Linked DNA regions of Homo sapiens. The protein of the gene in region 2 purifies or fractionates together with the protein of the main gene of each other region. This does not show direct contact. Each region holds a gene or a part of one and is shown on either strand. Other genes may lie near its edges.

What was found.
Region 1: the proteins of STEEP1 (region 2) and CACTIN purify together in Homo sapiens (affinity purification with mass spectrometry; 3 studies listed by BioGRID and IntAct, with this or other methods). This does not show direct contact.
Region 3: the proteins of STEEP1 (region 2) and KLHL36 purify together in Homo sapiens (affinity purification with mass spectrometry; 3 studies listed by BioGRID and IntAct, with this or other methods). This does not show direct contact.

The regions. Positions count from the first base shown.
Region 1 is NC_000019.10:3,623,756-3,631,394, reverse strand, and holds the start of CACTIN (splicing factor Cactin), read left to right. Parts: upstream 1-4,604; 5' UTR 4,605-4,632; coding exon 4,633-4,799; intron 4,800-7,232; coding exon 7,233-7,639. UniProt on the Homo sapiens protein: Plays a role in pre-mRNA splicing by facilitating excision of a subset of introns. Required for the splicing of CDCA5/Sororin, a regulator of sister chromatid cohesion. Involved in the regulation of innate immune response.
Region 2 is NC_000023.11:119,562,346-119,569,544, reverse strand, and holds the start of STEEP1 (STING ER exit protein), read left to right. Parts: upstream 1-4,135; 5' UTR 4,136-4,189; coding exon 4,190-4,313; exon of another isoform or gene 4,314-4,420; intron 4,421-7,199.
Region 3 is NC_000016.10:84,644,146-84,651,613, forward strand, and holds the start of KLHL36 (kelch-like protein 36), read left to right. Parts: upstream 1-4,365; 5' UTR 4,366-4,504; exon of another isoform or gene 4,505-4,742; intron 4,743-4,794; exon of another isoform or gene 4,795-4,921; intron 4,922-5,057; exon of another isoform or gene 5,058-5,183; intron 5,184-5,262; exon of another isoform or gene 5,263-5,434; intron 5,435-6,706; 5' UTR 6,707-6,722; coding exon 6,723-6,785; intron 6,786-7,468.

The DNA.
Region 1 (7,639 bases), on a different chromosome or scaffold from region 2:
CAGGCACCCCCCGGGGAGGCAGGGGCAGAGGTCAGAAGGGGTGTCTGGGACCTGGATGGCCAGCAGGGACAGGGGCATTGTCATCTCAAAGGCCCAACCCCCAGAGGCCACACCAGTCCTCCCAGGGAGTCCTCGAGTCGCCCTGCCCAGAGCCCTGGCACCAGAGACGCCAAGAGCCTGTGGGGTGACTCGGAGCAGCAGGTGTGGCCCCGGGCGGGCGGCACCGCGTCCAGGGCAGCCTCCCTCCGCTGAGTGACACGGGACACCAGTGCCCGGCCGACGCGCCTTTGCAGGAGAAATGTGCAAACCTCTGTGGATACCATTTCATTTCCATTCTTGTGTTGTCTCCAAGGCCCTTTTGGAGATATACTTGGTGTTGGTTGTGTTTTTTGGTTCCTTTTCAGAGAACTGTAAACCGAGGCTGACGTGCTCCACTGACTGTGCCGAGGGGCGGGGGCAGGAGGACGGCAAGACCTATTTATAATATTTAGCGAACTCGGTCTCCCTCAGATCCCCCGCGAGGGAGGCTGCTGGACCCACCCCGCTGTCCCCCATGATAGAAGTCTGTAAATACCTTGGTGACCAATGCCCACTTCCCCTCCTGGGTCACCTCTGATGGCTGCTGTCCACTGAGAACGTGGGCAGTGTCCAAATTCCTGTACTGTAAAGACTAAAAGGCGTTTGCTCTGAGACTGACAAGGCGGAAACTTCCATGTGTCTCCTGCCAGGCTCTGTCCCCCTACGCCATCCCGACACGTCCCCGTTCCCCCGAAACCTGGCTCAGTGCAATACTCCCATTGCCATGGGGTCCTTCACCATGGTACTGTCTCCACAGCCCTCAGTCCCCACCCCAGGAGAGGCGCCTGCCACCTCCTCCTCATCTCCGGTGGTTCAATCGCTCCGCCTGTCCCCAACCCAGTCCCATTTTTATGGCCAAACTGATTCTGAAACAAAATGAAACTGCAAACCTCGTGTGTCTTAACTCCCCCCAGGGATGCCACTCCATTCCTCCGCCCCGTGGTCTGGTGCGTGACAATCCAAAGCGCCGAGACGAGGGTGCTGTGTCCCTCAAACCCAGAGTGGTGGGCGCCTCTGAAACCATACAGCCACTCCTGGCCCCAAACACTGGTTTGCATCCCAGGTTCCTCGCCCACCTACCCCCGCCACACCCCGTCTTTTTAGAGATCTCTCTAATAAATCGGGTAATAAGCATCCGCCTGTTTGCCTTTCTGTGGGTTCCGGAGGTCTGGTTGGGAGTCTGAGGAGTGACTTTGTTCTGTGTTTTTTGTTTTCTGTTTTTGTTTGTTTGTTTGTTTTCTTTTTAAGAGATGGAGTCTCGCTCTCCACCCAGGCTGGAGTGCAGTGGCGCAATCTCAGCTCACTGCAAGCTCCGTCTCCTGGGTTCACACCATTCTCCTGCCTCAGCCTCCTGAGTAGCTGGGACTACAGGCGCCCGCCACCACGCCCAGCTAATTTTTTATTTTTAGTAGAGGCAGGGTTTCACCATGTTAGCCAGGATGGTCTCGATCTCCTGACCTCGTGATCCGCCCACCTCGGCCTCCCAAAGTGCTGGGATTACAGGTGTGAGCCACCGCACCCAGCCTGTGTTTTGTTTTTTTTTTTTTTGAGATGGAGTCTCGTTCTGTTGCCCAGGCTGGAGCGCAGTGGAGTGATCTCAGCTCACTGCAACCTCTGCCTCCCGGGTTCAAGCCATTCTCCTGCCTCAGCCTCCCGAGTAGCTGGGACCACAGGCGCCCGCCACCACACCTGGCTAATTTTTTTGTATTTTTAGTAGAGACGGGGTTTCACCACATTGGCCAGGCTGGTCTCAAACTCCTGACCTCAAAGGACCCACCCGCCTCATCCCAAAGTGCTGAGATTACAGGCGTAAGCCACCGTGCCTGGCCTGAGGACTGACTTTGAATCTTAGAGAAGAGAGAAACCTTTGTGAGATTGATGCTGATACCAGTAATAGGACCCAAACACCTTACCAGCTGTGAACCTTCTTCAGGTCCCAGTTCAGCTCAGAAAACATTTTATTGTTTCCAACATCTTTGCAGCCCCCCAAAGTTTGTATTTGTTCTGCTAGAGCGGTTCCAATTCAGTCACGTTTGGACCCCTTGAAGGGAACACATTTATCTTGGACTCCCAGGTTGAGAAACTACATTGAAAACAAGATCCTGGCCAGGCGTGATGGCTCACACCTGTAATCCCAGCTACTCGGGAGGCTGAGGCCAGAGAATTGCTCCAACCTGGGAGGCAGAGTTTGCAGTGAGCTGAGATCATGCCCCTGCACTCCAGCCTGGGCGACAGAGCAAGAAAATGTCTCAAAAAAAAAAAAAAAAAAAAAGTAAGATCCTGTCTGTAAGGGAGCCGTTGGAACGTTTCAGCACAGCTGTTTTATAAACTGAACATGGAGGTGATCTCGTTGTTTTAAGTTTGTTTTTTGTTTTTTTGTTTTTTTTTTTTGAGATGGAGTCTCGCTCTGTCACCCAGGCTGGAATGCAATGGTACGATCTCAGCTCACTGCAACCTCCGCCTCCCAGGTTCAAGCAATTCTTCCTCGGCCTCCTGAGTAGCTGGGACTACAGGTGCCTGGCACTACACCCGGCTAAATTTTGTATTTTTAGTAGAGGTGGGGTTTCACCATGTTGACAAGGCTGGTCTCGAACTCCTGAACTCAGGTGATCCACCCACCTTGGCCTCTCAAAGTGCTGGGATTACAGGACTGAGCCACCGCGCCCGGCCCATGCAAGTGATCTCTTAATGTGCTGCAAGGATGCATCTGAATTTTGGGAAGCACAGGGTCAGGCCTTCGCTTTGTTTTGGGCCATCCCATCAGCATGACAACCCACATCTCAGGACCGGCAAGGTCATCATCTAGAGCGGCAGGAGATGGTCTCTTCTTCCTCTGTAAGGTTCCATCCTTGCCTTAACACCAAGCAAAGCATACAAAGCCAGCGTTTACGGGGATGTTATGAAGTTGTATTCCAAGATAAACGTTTTATTTATTTATTTATTTATTTATTTATTTATTTGAGACGGGGACTTGCTCTGTCGCCCAGGTTGGAGTGCAATGATGCGATCTCAACTCACAGGAACCTCTGCCTCCTGGGTTCAAGCGATTCTTCTGCCTCAGCCTCCCGAGTAGCTGGAATTACAAGCATGCCACCATGCCCAGCTAATTTTTGTATTTTTAGTAGAGACGGGGTTTCGCCATGTTGGACAGGCTGGTCTCGAACTCCTGACCTCAAGATCCACCTGCCACGGCCTCCCAAAGTGTTGGGATTACAGGCATGAGCCACTGCACCCCACTCAAGATAAACATTTTAATTTTCTTTTTTTTTTTGAGACGGAGTCTTGCTCTATCGCCGAGGCCATAGCGCAGTGGCACGATCTCGGCTCACTGCGACCTCCGCCTCCCAGGTTCAAGCAATTCTCCCTGCCTCAACCTCCCAAGTAGCTGGGATCACAGGTGCATGCCACCACACCCGGCTAATTTTTGTATTATTTAGTAGAGATAGGGTTTCACCATATTGGCCAGGCTGGTCTTGAACTCCCGACCTCAGGTGATCCGCCCGCCTCGGCCTCTCAAAGTGCTGGGGTTACAGGCGTGAGCCACCGTGCCCGGCCAAGATAAATATTTTAAAAGTTAGCTTAAATTACTATCATCCTCCATAAACAGGCCTTCCCAGCCCCGAGTGGTTAGAACTGCACGGGGTGGTGGTAGCAGCCACCATGGGCTAGGGGAGCTCAGGATGGGACATCAGCGTCTTCTAGGTCTCTGGCCTCCAGCCTTGCCCCTGAAGTCCGTCCTCCCACGCCAAACTTGTTTCAACAGCAAGTCCCCCAAACCCTGCTCACAACCCTCCCACGGGTCCCCAGCACCCACACCACAAAGCTGGGCAGCCTGGGTTGAGAAGGCAAGTGTTAAGAGTGACTTTCCCTCTCTGAGCCTCAGTTTCCCCGTCTCTAAAATGGGTTGATGGGGGAATACAGGGAGTTATCAAAGTTTTTGTTTTTTTTTAAAGCTTAACTCCCAAAATACATAGGTGTTCATTGGCAGGTGGTGGAGCATAACGATGACTCTCATAAGAAGGCTTTTCAGTTTCTGTCCCCGCGCCCGCCCTCTGCCCTCTGGAGCTGCCTGGCACCTAACACCTTCCCGGTTCCTCGCCTTTCGGGGACCTCGCTCCCCGGACACGCCTCTCCTCGGCCACGCCCCTGGCCACGCCAATGAAGCGCTACTTCCGACCTAGACCCGCTTCTTATTGGTCTCGCCTCGGCAGGCCCCTCCCTGCACAAGGTTCCTAGTTTGCCCTTGCCCCGCCCACAGTTTCTCAGGCCCCCTGAGGCGTGGGGACCCGCCTAGGGCTGCCTCCAGCACTGCCTGAAAGGAGACTCCGCCACCCTGGAGGCAACAATCCCACTGGAGTCAATCACGCGGTCCACATTTGCAGACGTAGTGGAAAGTCTGGGGTGTCGGAGTCCTTGCGGGCTGGGGCGACGGGATGGGTTGCTCTTTCCCGGCTCAGGCGCAAACGGGGCAGCCTGGAGAGCGCCGTGGGCGAGGAAGGCCCCCAGCGCAGGCTTCGGCTATTGGTGTTGGTGCCGCGGCCACTGGCCCAGCCGATGGGTCGGGACACACGCTCGCGCTCGCGGTCCGCGGGTCGCCGGGGCCGAAGGCGGCAGAGTCAGAGCGGGAGCCGAAGTCGGAGCAGGAGCCATGGGCGGCGAAACCGACGGCGCCGGGAGGACGAGGGACGGCGCAGACGGAGGCGGCGGAGCCGGGAGCGCAGGTGGGGTCGCTGCGGGAGCAGCGCTGGGGATCCGGCTCCTACCTCAGGAGCGCCCGACCGAGGGTTGGAGATCCCGGGGAACCGGGAAACCCCCGACTTACTCGGGGAGGGCTTCCTAGAGAAGGGGACAATTGACCACCGGTTGGAATTAACCTGGCAGCGGAAGGAAGGCGAGAGGCGTTCCAGGCAGGGGACCGGGCGGTTGGAGGGACAGCCCGGAGCCGGGTGAGCGAGGCGGCGGGGAGGTAACGAGAGATCAGATCATATCATATCGAGCCCTGTGTGCTCAGCACATTAGATCTTGGCTATTAGTCGGAGGGAAATGGAGAGTCTTGAGAGGAGTTTGGGTAGGGGAGTGACGTGGACTGACTTAACTCTGCATACTTTCTGGCTTTGAGGTGGAGAAGGGATGGAGCGGGGTAGGCAGGAGCGGCATCAGAGTAGGACGGCACAATTGTCCAGACAGTAGATGATGGCAGTCTCGATGGGAGGGAGGCTGTAGTCAACCACAGCGGGCAAAGTGCGTAGATTTCAGAGGGATTCTGGAAGTAGAGGAGACAACATTTGCTAATGGAGGTGGGCTGTGGGAGGGAAAAAGACTCGGTGTCAGCTGGCAGGACTCACAGCTGATTCCTAGTGCCTGAATCTCAGCTTCCCCATGGTCCTTTTCTTCTGGAGATGGGGCACTTGGTCGGATTTGCCTTGAGCCGGCTCCAGTACAGAGAAACCAAAATGGGGACAGGGACTGATTCCCAGACCGGGGCCCCAGTGCTGGCTCAGCCCCTTCGTGGCTGACACTCAGGCCAGTCTTGCCCCGCTCTGGGCCAAGTTCACTCATCGGTTGTTGGTTTTTTTGTTTGTTTGTTTTTGAGACGGAGTCTTGCTCTGTCGCCCAGGCTGGGGTGCAGTGGCACGATCTCGGCTGTTACCTCTGCCTCCTGGGTTCAAGCGATTCTTCAGCCTCAGCCTCCCCGGTAGCTGGGGTTACAGGTGCTTGTTGCCACACCCAGCTAATTTTTGAATTTTTTCGTAGAGCTGGGATTTCTCCATATTGGCCAGGCAGGTCTTGAACTCCTGGCCTCAAGTGATCTGCCCGCCTCGGCCTCCCAAAGTGCTGGGATTACAGGCGTGAGCCACCGCGCCTGCCCATAAGTCTTGTTAATGTCATCTTTGTGTTTTTTCGCCTACCATTTTCTGGTATTGGAATTATTCACAATAATTTGCCACTCTAGATATGTAATTAGAATTAATGTTCACGAAAATTCAGTTGAACTTGTGGCCAATATTTAAGGGCTCTGCAATGATTGGTTTCAACATAGTTTAGATTTTTTTGACATGAGCTTAATGGGTAGAGCATTTAACAAAATATTTGGCAGTTCTCTGTGTACAAAGACCCCTAAACGTGACTGAGCGCAGTGGCTCACATCTGTAATCCCAACACTTTGGGAGGCTGAGACAGGAGGCTTGCCTGAGCCCAGGAGTTCAAGACCAGCCTGGGCAACATAGCAAGACCCCTCTGTACAAAAAAATGTAAAGAGTTACCTGGGCGTGGTGGTGTGTGCCTGTAGTCCCCGCTACTCAGGAGGCTGAGGCGAGAGGATGGCTTGAGCCCAGGAGGTCAAGGCTGCAGTGAGCTCTGATCATGCACTCCAGCCTGTGTGACAGAGGGAGACTCTGTCTCTAATAAATAAAAATATAGACCTTGTCTCTAGTAGACTCTGTGTCTAGTAGACCTTGTCTCTAATAAATAAAATTAAAGGCCCCTGAACCACCCCTGAGGTTGTGCATCTTCCATTCCCTGCGCTCTACTCTGTTAACTCCTGTCCATCCTGTGGGACTAGTTCAAATACCACTTCCATCTAGGAAGCCCTCCCTTGACAGCCTAAATGTGTTCGGGTCCCCTGGTTCGTACCCTTATAATTCCTGCGCCACCAGCCCCAGCCACCTCCCTGCCCGCGCCTCCTCCCTCTCCCCCACACTCTGTCTCAGCCATACAGCCTCCTTGTTGTTCTTAGAATGTGGCAGGTCAGTGCCTGCCTCTAGGCCCTCGCTCTTGCTCTGCCTCGAGCACTCTCCCTCCGAATCCACCCATCGCTGCCTCCCCACTCCCTCCAGACCTTGGCTCAGTGTCAGCTCCTGAGAGAGCCCCTCTCTGACCTCGGCCCTGCAGCCCCAGCCCCTGTGCTCGGCATTGCTACTCTTTGTGGCTTCTGCCTCTGCCTAGTGTTGCGTGGTGTGTTTATTTGTTGATGTCTTCCTTGTTGGGGCCCACCAGAGGGTGAGCCCAGGAAGGCAGAAGCCATCGGTATTTGGGTCACTGCTGTGTCCCCAGAACCTAGAACAGTGCCTGCTCCCCCACGGGCACCCAGTAAGCATCTGTGGAGCAGATGACAGCTGCAGGCACTGAGCAGGCATCCATGGTCCTCTCCGCAGGTCAGATTCAGAGGAAGAGCGGTGGCAGCGCTCAGGGATGCGAAGCCGGAGCCCCCCGCGGCCCAAGTGGCACTCAAGAGATGGGTCCTCTCAGTCGGACTCAGGAGAGGAGCAGTCACGGGGCCAGTGGGCTCGCCGGCGACGGCGCGCACGCTCGTGGTCTCCTAGCTCCTCAGCATCCAGCTCCGCGTCTCCAGGGCGATCCCAGAGCCCCCGGGCGGCCGCGGCTGCCCTGAGCCAGCAGCAGAGCCTGCAGGAGCGGCTGCGGCTGCGGGAGGAGCGGAAGCAGCAGGAGGAGCTGATGAAGGCCTTCGAGACGCCCGAGGAGAAGCGCGCACGGCGGCTGGCCAAGAAGGAGGCCAAGGAGCGCAAGAAGCGGGAGAAGATGGGCTGGGGTGAGGAGTACA
Region 2 (7,199 bases):
AGATCACGCCACTACACTCCAGCCTGGGTGACAGAGCCAGACTCCGTCTCAAAAAAAAAAAAGGATTTCACTACCTGCTAAATTACTGAATCAAAGAAAACAAAGGCATGGTGTGGTATGCTGAATAATGCACAACCCTGCCCCCTCCGCCCCCCCAGCCAGATCTCCATTTCCTTATCTCTGTAACTGGTGAATATGTTACCTTACATGGCAAAAGGGACTTTGCAGATGTGATTAAATTAAGAATCTTGACATGGGGATATTATCCTGGATTAAAGGGGTGGGCCTGAGGCAATCAAACCAGTCCTTATACGAGGGATGAAGTAGGAGTCAAAGAGGAGGCCATGTGATGACTGAAGCAGAGATTGGAGTGATGTGGCCACCAGGGAAGGAGCCAAAGTATGTCTGCAGTAGGAGTTGGAAGAGGCAAAAGATGGAAGCCTGAAGCCCCCAGAAGCAATCAGACCTGCTGACACCTTGACTTTAGACCACTGATATTGGTTTTGGACTTCTGATGTCCAAAACTCTAAGATAATACATTTGTGTTGTCTTAAGCCACCAAGTTTGTGGTAACTTGTTACAGCAGTAATATGAAACTAATACACATGTCTACCATGTTGTACATGGGAATTCAATCAAACCAGCCACATCCATCAGACCAGGGCTCAGCAAACTGCAGCCAAATCTAACCTGCCATTATTTGTCTATGGCCTACAAACTAAGAATGGCTTTCTATATTCTTAAACGGTTGAAAAAAGTCAAAAGATTTAATAATATTATAATGTACATCAATGTTACCAGACTAAGCATTCATCACAATATTCCCAACTCAGAGGAGAGCAATGGCTAGTAAAATTTAAAATTTTAAGTAGAATATCTTATTATGGCAAAATTCATAATAAAACTAAAAAATAGGCCAGGCGCATTGGCTCATGCCTGTAATCCCAGCACTTTGGGAGGCTGAGGTGTGTGAATCATGAGGTCAGGAGTTCCAGGCCAGCTTGGCCAACATGGGAAAACCCCATCTCGGCCGGGCGTGGGGGATCACGCCTGTAATCCCAGCACTTTGGGAGGCCGAGGTGGGCGGATCACGAGGTCAGGAGATCGAGACCATCCTGTCTAACACAGTGAAACTTCATCTCTACTAAAAATACAAAAAATTTGCCGGGCGTGGTGGCGGGCGCCTGTAGTCCCAGCTACTCGGGAGGCTGAGGCAGGAGAATGGCGCGAACCCGGGAGGCGGAGCTTGCAGTGAGCCGAGATCGCACCACTGCACTCCAGCCTGGGCGACAGAGCGAGACTCCGTCTCAAAAAAAAAAAAAAAGAAAAAAAAAAAAAGAAAACCCCATCTCTACCAAAAATACAAAAAGTAGCTGAGTGTGGTGGCGCATGCCTGTAATCCCAGCTACTCAGGGGGCTGAGGCAGGAGAATTGCTTGAACCTGGGAGGTGGAGGTTGCAGTGAGCCGAGATCACGCCACCGCCCTCCAGCCTGGGCGAGAGAGCGAGACTCCATCCCCCGCCCCCCCCAAAAAGGAAAAAATAAAAATAAGCCTATAGTCAAAGTAAGTTTCTGAGTGGCTCCTTTGTTAGCCAACCAAGGAAAGTCATTTACTGATACTGAGCTAAATTGTGTTTGGCTGCAGAAGTCAAAGAAATAGGCTCAAGAAAAATAAAACTTGTGAAGACTATTCACCTTTCAGCAAGAACAGTGGCTCTAAGAGTTGAGGACATTGAAATCAACATCAAAACAAAAACAAACAAACAAAAAAGGGCAAGGCACGGTGGCTCACACCTGTAATCTCAGCACTTTGAAAGCCTGCAGCAGAAGGATTGCTTGAGCCCAACAGTTCAAGACTACCCTGGGCAACACAGCAAGACCTTGTCTCTACAAAAAAATTAAAAAAAAAATAGCCGATGTGGTGGTGTGCATGTGTGGTCCCAGCTACTAGGGAGGCTAAGGTGGGAGGATCACTTGAGCCCAGGAGTTTGAGGCTGCAGTGAGCTGTGATCATGCCACTGCACTCCAGCCTGGGTGACAGAGCAAGACCCTGTCTCAAAAACAAAAACAAAAACAAAGCAAATGATTTCAAGTGGTTTTCCTTGGCTCCTGATGAATGTTTACCAATATTACTCAGTTGTTGTTTTTTACTCAAGGAGTCAATGTTGACTTTAAAGTGACTGAAGAATTGGACCGGGCGTGGTGGCTCACGCCTGTAATCTCAGCACTTTGGGAGGCCGATGTGGGCAGATCACTTGAGGTGAGGAGTTTGAGATCAGCCTGACCAACATGGTGAAACCCTGCCTCTACTAAAAATACAAAAAAAAAAAAAAAAAAAAAAATTAGCCAGGCATGGTGGCATGTGCCTGTAATCCCAGTTACTCAGGAGGCTGAGGCAGGAGAGTTGATTGAACCTGGGCGGTGGAGGTTGCAGTGAGCCAAGATTGTGCCACTGCACTCCAGCCAGCCTGGGTGACAGAGCCAGACTCTGTCTCAAAAAAAAAAAAAAAAAAAAAAATTGGCCTGGGTGTATGGTCTTGTGTGGAACAACTGCAGATGAGAGTATTTCAAAGAAGTCAGGAAAACACTAATTCAATTCAGTCTAAAGCATAATTTGCTAAGATGTATTACAAATATGTATGGAGCAGAAAAGGTTTAGACAAATGTACAATACTTGTCAAAATGTAAGTTGTTTAAAATCCTGTAGTTATTAATTGTATTATTAAACAGCAGGTACTTTGCAACAAACAAACAAACAAACTTGAATCTGTCTTGTGTTATTCTTGACAGTAGTGTCAACAGTGAAGTTCAGCTGGGCGCGGTGGCTCACACCTGTAATCCCAGCACTTTGGGAGACCAAGGTGGGTGGATCACGAGGTCAGGAGTTCAAGATTTTAGAAAATTTGAATTTGAATTTGAATTCAAAATTTTAGAAAATTTTCTAAATGAGAAGAACCCCACCCTTGACCACTATTATTGAACATGAATAGTTTTAAAAAATGGCTTTTGCCATAGACTTAGTAATGTTCCTTAATGAATTTAACCTAAAATTACAAGGCAAAACAGTGTTTATACCTGAAACCTGTACTGCAGTAAAGTCATTCAATGACATCCCACATTGTTTGAATCACAAACAGTGTCAAGGTGCTTTAATCACTTCTCGTGCTGTCAAAAGTTAAAAATCCAGATTTATATTCCCACACAAATTTGCGGTGGAAGTATTCTTGTACATGAATGTTCATAGCAGCATTATCTATATAATAACCAAAAAGTGAAAACATCCCCGTTGTCTGCCAATTGATGAATGAACAAAATGTGATATATCCATATGATGAAATATTATTCAACCATAAAAAGGAAAGAAGTACTGTAACATGGATGAACCTTGAAAACATTATGGTAAATGAAAGAAGCCAGACAAATGGCCACATATTGTAGGATTCCATTTATATGAAATGTCCAGAATAGGCAAATCCATAGAGATAAAAAGTAGATTAGTGGTTGCCGTGGGCTGGGAAGGTGGGGGATGTGCGGGTCGTGGTGACTACTAATGGGTATAAGATTTCTTTTTGAGATGATGGAAATGTTCTGGAATTAGTGGTGATGGTTACACAACTTTGTGAATACACTAAAAAACACCCAATTACACATTTTAAAAGGGTGAATTTTATGTTACGTGAATTATATCAACTAAAAAATAAGATACCTAAAAAATTATGTACTCATCTGGAATAGTCATTAAAATCACAATCATATTTAGAAACACACCCAAATCAGTATCATATATATATATATATATATATAATATAAACTATATAATGCATAGTCCTTTATTTAGCTGGTCTTATATATACATATGTGTATATATACATATAAATGCATGCGTTATAGAAATGTAAAGAATTTATATAATATTAAGGGTGTTGTGAGAAAGCCCACCAATCTTCATTGAGAAGTGACTCCCAGATCACAGGAGTCCCAGCTAACTTGGCCAAGACAAAGTAGGTTCTGGGAGGCTCCAGGCGCACCCCCGTATATCTTAGCCTGATAGGACAGCCCGGAAGTTTATAAGACTTCTGCTAACACGTGACCAGCGTAGCCACAAGGAAAAGGTGCAAGGCGCACTCGTGACGTCATTTCGGGGCGACCCTCTTCTTGGCGTAGAGTTTTCAGATTGCTCTTGGGAATCATGCCGAAAGTAGTGTCTCGGTCAGTAGTCTGCTCTGACACTCGGGACCGGGAGGAATATGACGACGGCGAGAAGCCCCTCCATGTTTACTACTGTTTGTGCGGCCAGATGGTCCTAGTGCTGGGTGAGTAGCCGGGAACTGCGGGGGCGTCTGCAAGGAGCCAGACTTCGGGTTCTTGAAGGCGAATTTCCTCTGGCTGTGATCTGGGAGCCACTTCTCAACGAAGATTGGTGGGTTTTCTCTCTCCGACTAAATCCTCCCTACGCATCCCCGCCCCACTCCAGGGCATTTTTTTTTTTCCTGCTTTTTGTTTAGCCTTGTGACTCTGTATCCAGACCTTCCTCAAAACTAAACTCCTTCAGGAGAACAAAAATAGAAACACAAACATATTGTATTTCCCTCTTAATCCACTGTCTTCAAAAACTACTGCCTCTAGAAGCTTTATAACTTTTCTGCTGGATACCAAGATGCTGCAGTTGCTCTTACCTCACAGCAAACGAAAATAAAACCCTCCCTCGATCCTGTATTCCCCTCCAGCTATAACCCCATTTCGTTGCTTCTTTTATAGCAAAGCTTCTCAAAAGAGTTGCCTATATTGGCTGTCTCTGCATCCTGACTTCTAATTCTCTCCTGACCTCACTTCAGGTAGGCTTTCCTTCCCACCTCATCATCTTAACCGTATTTGGCTCCATGTTAACAGTTCTAGTGGTCAGTTATCAATGTTCATTTTAATTCTGTCAGTGGCATTTGACAGAGGTAATCATTTCATTCCTTTTGCAACATGTTTTTTATTTGCTTCCAAGACTCCATACTCACTTGATTTTCCTCCTACCTCGTATTTCCCCCCCCCCTTTTTTTTCAGATGGAGTCTCACTCTGCTGCCCAGGCTGGAGTGCAGTGGTGCAATCTCGGCTCACTGCAAGCTCTGCCTCCCGGATTCAAGTGATTCTCCTGCCTCAGCCTCCCGAGTAGCTGGGATTACAGGCGCCCGCCACCATGCCCGGCTAATTTTTGTGTTTTTAGTAGAGACGGGGGTTTCACTACGTTGGCCAGGCTGGTCTCGAACTCCTGACCTCGTGATCCACCCGCCTCGGCCTCCCAAGGTGCTGGGATTACAGGCGTGAGCCACCGCGCCCAGCCTTAGATTTTTCCCCTTGTCTGGCTCCCTTTTCTCTCTCAGACTTTTAGGCATTCCAAGGCCCTATAGCTCAGTACTCTCACCTGTTCTCACTCTGTACCCACCCCCTAGGTGATCTCATTCATTCCCAAGCTTTAAATACAACTGACATGCTGGTAACTCCCAGATGTTCATCTTTAACCTGCACCTCTCCTGAGACTCCAATTGCCTATTCAACATCTCCACTTGAATGTCTAATGGGCCTCTCAAATATATCGTGCTGAAAATTGAGTTCATGACCCTCTACACCCCCTCTCCAATTGCTCCTCTTATAGTCATCCCTATTGCAGTCAGTAGTACAACTATTCATCCAGTATCTCAGACCAAAACCTGGAATCAGTCTTGACTTCTGTCTGTCACGTACCTTACATCTGTCCAGTCCATCAGGAAATCCTGCAGGTGCTTTCGTGAAAATGTATGCAGGATCTGACTGCTTCTTACCACCTCCATTCCTTTTTCTTTTTGAGACAGAGGGAGTCTCACTCTGTCACCCAGGCTGGAGTGCTGTGGCGCGGTCTCAGCTCACTGCAACTTCCGCCTCCCAGGTTCAAGCGATTCTCCTGCCTCAGCCTCCCAAGTAGTGTGCGCCACCAGGCCCGGCTAGTTTTTTTTTTTTTCTTTTTTTTTTTGAGATGGAGTTTCGCTCTTCTTGCCCAGGCTGGAGTGCAGTGGTGCGATCTCGGCTCACTGCAACTTCCACCTCCCAGGTTCAAGCGATTCTCCTGCCTCAACCTCCCTAGTAGCTGGGATTACAGGCATGTGCCACCACGCCCGGCTAATTTTGTATTTTTAGTAGAGATGGGGTTTCACCATGTTGGCCAGACTGGTCTTGAACTCCTGACCTCAAGTGATCCACCCACCTAGGCCTCCCAAAGTGCTGGGATTACAGGCATGAGCCACCACGGCCGGCCTACCACCTCCACTTCTAACACTGTAGTCCAAGCTACTACCATCTTTCACCTGGATTGGCACAATAGTCTCTTGCTCTCGTTGCTTCCACTCTTTTCCACATAGTAGCCAGAGTCCTGTTCAAAACCAATGGTTTCATATAACACTGAGAATAAAACCAAAGTCCATCCATACCAAGACCCTTGATCAGGCCTGTGGCTACCTCTCAGGCTTCATTCCCTAACAGTCTTCCTCTTGCTCATCGCACTTCAGCCACAGTGGCCTTTTTGCTTTTTCTCCATCATGTCAAAAGTGTTCCTGCCCCCCAGTGCCTTTTTAATTGGTATTTCTTCTGCCCCAAAAACTTTTCCCTCAATCCCTCCCTTACTTCATTCAGGTCTCTGCTAAAATGTAATTTCCTTAGAGAACCCTTCCCTGATTACCTTATCTAAAACAGCATCCCTGTCACTTTGTCCTCTTACCCTGCTTAATATTTAGCACTTATCATTACCCAAAATCATATTATAATTATTTTAAAATATGTTGCCTCTTCCACTAGAATGTAAGCTTCATCAGGGCCGGAACTTTTTTTTTTTTTTTTTGAAACAGTGTCTAGCTCTTGTAGCCCAGGCTGGAGTGCAATGGTGCGATCTCACCTCACTGCAACCTCTGCCTCCCAGGTTCAAGTGATTCTCTTGAGTAGCTGGGATTACAGGCACCTGCCACCATGTCTGGCTAATTTTTTTTTTTTTTTTTGAGACGGAGTTTCGCTCTTGTTGCCCAGGCTGGAGTGCAGTGGCACCATCTCGGCTCACTGCACCCTCCGTCTCCTGGGTTCAAGCGATTCTCCTGCCTCAGCCTCCCGAGTAGCTGGGATTACAGGCATGCACCACCATGCTCAGCTAATTTTGTATTTTTTTAGTAGAGACAGGGTTTCTCCATGT
Region 3 (7,468 bases), on a different chromosome or scaffold from region 2:
AGAAAGAAAGAAAGAAAGAAAGAAAGAGAGAGAGAGAGAGAGAAAGAAAGAAAGAAAGAAACGAAGGAAGGAAGGAAAAGAAAGAGGAAAGAAGGAAGGAAGGAAGAAGGGAAGGAAGGAAAGAAGGAAGGAAGGAAAGAAGGAAGGAGAGAGAAAGGAAGAAAAAAGGAAAAAAGGCACCATGTTGGGGAGAGAGTGTGCAAAAGAAAGGAACAAGCTTTTCTCCTGCTTTTTTGGAACAAAAGGTGGCCCACATTTTCATCCTGCACTGGGCCATGCAAAACATATAGCTGGCTGGCTCCATCGGATGGTGCCTGAATCTCAGAAGTGACAGTGTTGAGCTGCTGTTGGGGGCACCAATTAGGACAGGCTTTCAGGGGAGAGGCATGGTTTAGGGTCTTACAAATATGCAGACCTTTGGAGCCAGCAATTCCCCTTCACTGTCAGAGATGTGCATATGGATGTGTGAGCAAGGATGTTCACCACGGCATGATTCATAATAGAGACACCAGCTGGATGCCCAACAATGGGGGGAGGTCAAGGGCACAATCCATACTGAAGGATCAGGCACAGCCATTAAACATCATGTCATCAACGAGGACTTACTGACATGTGAAAAACTCATGACATTTGCAAAATGGGGAAAAAGTCAGCTACCAAGGAGTGTGCACCATAGGATCTCATTTGCATAGGCGTGCAGGGAATATATGCAGGAGAAAAATATTGAGCTGGTTTATCCTTAAATGCCAATAGCTGTTCTCCTCAGGTGGGTTATGTTTTCCTCTTCTGGGCCTGTTTTCCAACTGTCTGCACTGAGCACACATCACTGTCATCAGTGCACTGAGGTACTGTTGGGCAGTGGCCAAGGCTAGGGCTGCAGACACTGGAGGCAGACTCCCTGGGTTCAAAGCCCAGCTCTGCTCCTTACGAGTTCTGGGACCTTGAGCAAGGGATTTAACTTCTCCAGGACTCAGCTTCCCCATCTGCAAACAGGGAAAGTAATGATACCTTCCTCAAAGGATCAAGGTATTAACTCACCATGATAGGGTCATGGCTGATTGACTTGTTTGGCTGTCTTCCTAAAACCCCTGAAATTTTCTTCTTTATATCCCTGGCACCTACCACAGTGCCAGGCTTACAGCAGGTGTTCCTGAAAAGTCTGCTGAATGAACGAAGGAGGGAGTGCATGAATTCATGTAAGGATGGAGATCCACATCCCAGGGTACAGAGATAGTATCAAATGAGTTAATACATGCAGAGGGCTTACAGCACTGCCTAGTGCTTAGAAAACTGGAATTATCATTATGGCAAAGAAATTGTGTAAGAGGAAAATGTTGAGAGAACAATATGAACCAATTTTTTTGAATGATGTAGAAATGAGTGTTTGTTTTATTTTGTTTTGTTTTTGAGACAAGGTCTTGCTCTGTTACCCAGGCTGGAGTACAGTGGCACAACCACAGCTCACTGCAACCTCGACCTCGTGGGCTCAAGCAATCCTCCCACCTTAGCCTCCCAAGTAGCTGGGACTACAAATGCATGCAGCCATGACTGGCTGATGTTTAATTTTTTTTTGTACAGACGAGAGTCTTGCTATGTTGCCCAGGATGGTCTCGAACTCCTGAGCTCAAGTGATCCTTTTTCCTCCCAAAGTGCTGGAATTACCGGCATGAGCCACTACACATGGCTGTTTGGTTTTTTGTTTTGAACTTTTCTGTATTGAGAGTAGCTGAGTAAAGCATGCATTACTTTTATAATTTGGGAGGACACAAAACGTTACTGAAAGAAAAAGACTGAGAGAGTGGTTCACAAAGTGCTGTTGGGGAACGCAGGGTGAAGCCAAGTTAGCCGAGTCCACACCGTTTTCATGTCAAGGTCATGTGTGGATGAGCTTGTCTTAGGCCCTTACTCCGGCCCCCATACACCAGGTTGCACGTCTTCTCATTCATGATGAACACAACACCCGGAAGGCCGATGTTCATGCTGAGTTATAGGCTCTACAGCGAAATCTCTTGTTAGATAAATAGATAGATAGATAGATAGATAGCATAGATACCCATATATAGAGGTGCATGTATCCATTTATCTATATAAGAGTTATAGGCTCTTAAAATATCTACAGCTAAATCTCTTGTTAGACAGATAAATAGATATGATAGATACCCATATATAGAGGGGCATGTATCTATTTATCTACCTATATCTATTTATCAAGAGAATCTTTAACTCTAGCTGTAAAAAAGAATATGTCCAACTCTTGGTGCTCCGTGTATTGCCCCAACACAGTACTCACCACGCTAGGACCATTGCTGATTGACTTGTTTTCCTGTCTTCCTAAGAGCCCTGAAAGTTTCTTCTTTGTATCCCTGGCACCTACTACAGTGCCGGCCACACAGCAGGTGTTCCTGAAAAGTCTGTTGGATGAATGAGAGGCAGTGCATGAATTCATGTCAGAACAGAGATCCATCCACATGTCGGTATGGAGACAGAATAACAGGAGGATTAGCTTTGTCTGGGGTAGGGACAGGTCCAGGAAGGGTCAAAGACAGGCAAGTAAGGCTTGGCAGGGTGAATGTGTACAGTCCCCAAAGAAAAGGGGAGAGAGAGAGAGAGAGATGGGGGACAGCAATCCAGTCAGTGAGAACATCATTTAAAGATCCTTGGCTCACACCTGTAATCCCAGCACTTTGGGAGCCTGAGGCAGGCAGATCACCCGAGGTCAGCAGTTTGAGACCATCCTGGCCAATATGGTGAACCCCATCTCTACTAAAAATACAAAAATTAGCCAGGCGTGGTGGTGGGCGCCTGTAATCCCAGCTACTCAGGAGGCTGAGGCAGGAGAATCGCTTGAATCCAGGAAGTGGAGATTTCAGTGAGTTGAGATTGAGCCGTTGCACTCTAGCCGGGGTGACAGAAAGACTCTGTCTCAAAAAAATAAATAACCATCCCGGCTAACACGGTGAAACCCCGTCTCTACTAAAAATACAAAAAATTAGCCGGGCGAGGTGGTGGACGCCTGTAGTCCCAGCTACTTGGGAGGCTGAGGCAGGAGAATGGCGTGAACCCGGGAGGCGGAGCTTGCAGTGAGCCGAGATCCCGCCACTGCACTCCAGCCTGGGCGACAGAGCGAGACTCCGTCTCAAAAAAAAAAAGAAAAAAAATAAATAAATAAATAAATAAAATAAATAAATAAATAATTAAAAAATAAAGATCCTGTAAGTGGGCTGGGTGTGCTGGCTCACACATGTCATCCCAGCACTTTGGGATACCGAGGCACGAGGATCGCTTGAGCCCAGGGGTTCAAGACCAGCTTGGACAACAAACTGAAACCCTGTCTCTATAAAAATCAAAGAAAAAAAAATAGCCAGGTGTGGCAGCCGGCACCTGTGGTCTCAGCTGCATGAAAGACTGAGGCAGGAGGATCACTTGAGCCTGGGAGGTGGAGGCTGTAGTGAGCACTACACAAAAGAAATCGCTGATCCTTCAGCAGCCATTTCCCACTCCAGCAACTCCCCGCCCCTGGCAACCACTCATCTACTTTCTGTCTCTATGGATTGGCTTGTTCCGGACATTTCACATACACGGAATCATACAGTGTGTGGTCTTTTGTGTCTGGCTTCTTTCACTAAGTATTACATCTCCAAGGTTCATCCCGCTGTAGCATGAGCGAAGTGTGACAATTGATAGATGGATCGATGAAGGTTACATTCATTCATTCCATACACATTTACTGAGCACCTACTGTGTGCCAGTCTTGGCGACGACCCAGTCAGGAATAGAACTAACAGTAAACCCTGCCCTGGAGGGCTTCTGGTAGGGAGGAGAGACAATAAACCGAATAAACTAGTACATTATTTGGAATATTAGACGCTGATAAGAGCTCAAGTGAAGCATGGGGTTGGAAGTTGGGTGCAGAGAGAGGGGCTGTGACTTCGAGCAGAGCGGTCAGCAAAGGCCTCGCCGCAGGGTGGCCGCAGGGACGCTCCCGCTCAGCCCGGAAGGAGGCGAGAGGCGCGGTGCCCGTCCCGGCGACTCTGGGCCAGCAAAGAGCTCCCAGCGCACGCGTCGGTGCCTCGAGGCCCGGGACCCTGCGTGTCTGGTCCCCGCCGTGGCCCTGCGTCCGTGACGGTGGGTGGCACCAGGGAGCATTTCGCGCGGCGGGGCTGGGGCCTGCCTTTGAAGGGACGGAGTCGGGCGTCGTGGTGGGGTGGACACCGGGGATCCCCGGGGCGCGGACGAGGGGGGCGTCCACCCTGCGAGCTCACCCCACGGCCCCCGCGTCCCGCCCTCAGCCGCAGGCCCCGCCCCGCGCCGCCCGGCCCCGCCTCCCCGCGGCCGCCGCCATTGGCCGCGCGCGCCGCCTCCGCCCTCGGCCTCGCACTTCCTGGCGGAGCCATGGCTGCGCAGCGGGCTGGCCGGGGGTCTCCTGAACCCGGGCCCCGCCGCCCCGACCGCCCGGCCCCGCCGCCGGGGCTGTCCCCGCCGCGTCCGTAGCGCGTCCTGCCAGGTGGGCCTCCGCGCGCGCCCACCCTCCAGCCCGGGACCGCCAGGAAGCCGCGCCCGGCCGGGGCGGGGAGCTGGCGGAGATCGGGAGGGTCCCCGGCCACCGCGAGCCGCGACCCCCCTGCGCCCCTTGGTGCCGGGGCGGGCGGGTGGGCGAGTGGGGGCGCCGCGGCCGGGGGAGGGGCCGCCGCCCCCGCAGGTGACACAGGTGCGGCCTGTGCGGACCGCCCCGCGCGTGGCAGGTGAGTGGCCCCCGCCCCGGGCCGTCCCGACTCCGCCTCCTCGCCGCCGGCTGGAGCCTGCTGGGCGGCCGTTGCGCTGAGTTCCGCCTGGGCTGCGGGGTCCGAGCGAACGACAGCGGCGTCCCCGGAGACCCCGCCGGCGAGCCGGTGTCAGCAGCGTCGCTTTCTCCAACGCTGAGGTCGGGAGGGAGCTTGGGGAGGAGGCGCTCTGGGAAACCCCCGGCCGGACGGGGCCTGCGGTCCCATGTTTACTGGAAGACCTTTTCCAGTGACCTGGGATTGTCACTGTGCTTGGGGGTGGCCTTGACCCTTCACCTGCTTCCAAAAAGCGTCGGAGGCCGCTGACGTCCAACACGGGTGGAAATCAGACCCCACCCCCACGCACTTGCAGGAGACAGCAGGGAGCCTCCGGCCCCGCGAACTCTCTCTAGGTATCTTGGCCTAGAAAATAAAGCGTTGAGCGTTAGAAGGCCTGGTTGATTCTGGGCAGGCTGCCTGGGGCGGTGGAGAGAGAGGGCACCTGCTGCTTGCTGTTCTGTGACCTTGGGCAACCCCCCCTGGGGCACCCGAGCGCCAGGTCTCACTGTGGGAACGACGGTGTCACCTCTCAGCGTGAAGGTGGAATGAAGTCGAGTCCGCGGTGGGCACCGCACCAACGCTGGGTTTCTTCTCTTCCCTCTCTGGGCTCTCCAGCATCCTAGGGGAGGGCCGGGGTGGGAACAGCTTGTCATTGTCACAAAGTTTCTAGTTTGTCGAGAGGAATCCAGTTGCCCCTTCTCTCCCTAGGGGAGTTGCACGGGACGGACTGTGCCCGAATTCATTCCTTCCATGGGAACACTGGAGTGCCCTCCCTGTGTCCCCAGTTATCTAAGAACAGTGCTGACTTCTTGTCACATTGTTCTTTATTAGTGAAGACTATTTGTTCAATAGGTAACAAACTCTTCTCATGAACTCAAATAGCGGGGGAAAAAAATCCTCTTTAAAACCTTCGTCTCAGTATGTGACTTGTGCTAATATTAGTTGGCAAAGTCCCTTCTCTGTGTTCCCTTCCATCTTTGAAGCACCTGCCCCTCCCCCTGCCTCCCCCGCCCCCCACACACCAAAGCTTAACTCTGTCTGCAGTGATCCCCCACCCAAGAGCCAGGCAGTGTAGCCTAAGAGTTAAGAGCATGGGCGCTTCCCTGAGCTGGAATCCCAATTCTGCCAGTTCCCAGCTGTGTGACGCCGGGCAGCTTATTTCACCTCACTGCTCTCAGCATCCTCCAGTCACAGTGCTGGCCTCATGGGGTTGCAGTGGGGACTAAGTGAAGATGCAGAGAAGCACTTGGGGACAGTGTGTGTCTAGAATGTACTGTGTACATGGTAGTCATCACTGTACCACATCCTCATCTGCATCATGATATTTTTAAAGTGTGATACTCTCGAACCCGGGCCTCATTCAGCAGCGTGTCATGGTGATGGATCCAGGTTTTGAAGCTGGACAGACCGAGGCGTGATTCTCGGCCGTTTACTAGCTTTGTGACCATGAGATCAATATCCTCATCTGTGAAATGAAATAAGTGATATCAGCCTGGCCAAGTATAATCTTTGTGGGGGTTAAATGAGATGGCACACTTAAGTCACTTAGCTTGGTTCGAGGGCTGTAGTCTGGGCTCCGAAATGATAACTTATCATTATAACCTTGATGTAGCCAAAAGGTAATTATTTGTAGGAAGTGAACCAAATGACATGATATCAGATTTTAGATGATAAAGGAATGGGAGTTAAATGTTCTGTCCAATTCTAACAACCCGATGATTTCTCAACTCGGTGTAAAAGAGTTCTTTGTAGTGCACGGTCCTCCCTCCCTCCTTCTTCCGTGTGACTGTTTTCACTGTCATCCTTGGTATCTGCTAGCAGGGCCTGAAATTAATGAATGACCTAGAGTTATGACTGCATGCTCAGAAATCCTGTTCTTCTCCTAGGGCTGAAATCTCTTTAATGATGGAGGGAAGCAGGCAGACGCGAGTGTCTCGGCCATACAAGATCAGCGAATCATCAAAGGTCTGTGAATGTTCACTCACCACCTATGCAAATTGCCTAAGAAGTGTGATCCTTTTTCTGATTCACTCATTTCTAATCACAGACTGATTTTTTTGTCATTGGTGTTGTCAGTCTCCTTAATGACAAGTAAAGGTGGAAACGGGCAAGGAGCAGAAATTGTCATAAAATCAGACAGTGGGAAGTATGAGGGATGGTAGAGACGCTATGGCCAGATGTCTTCATTTTTCCATGTGACATTCCGGAGCTTTCTTTTTGTGACAACTTGACTCATTCGTTAACCCAAGGAGGTGGATGGGACAGGAAGAAAACTGGGATTCCCATGCCTGCTTGGGGGCTCAAAAACTCCAAGGACAGGTCCATTGAGAACCCAGCCTTCTACCTTAGGGTGAGGGCAACACACCGTGTACCCGGACCCCAAGGGCCTGGAGTCGTCTTCCCTGGTCATGATTCCCTGCGACCTAAGAGCAAGTGAGGGCAAGTTCCCCAGAGCCAGGCTACTGGGGGAGTTCTAATTAGAAATATGTAGCCTGTTCCCACCAGCCACATTAAAATCCAAGAGCCAGACCCGGCTGCTATACTTTCCACAAACTCCTGTCCCCACAGCTGCTGTTGGTAAAGAGTGGGGGAGCCATTGGTATGAGGTTCCTGGTAACCTGTTTCCCCGTTATAAATATTCGTAATGC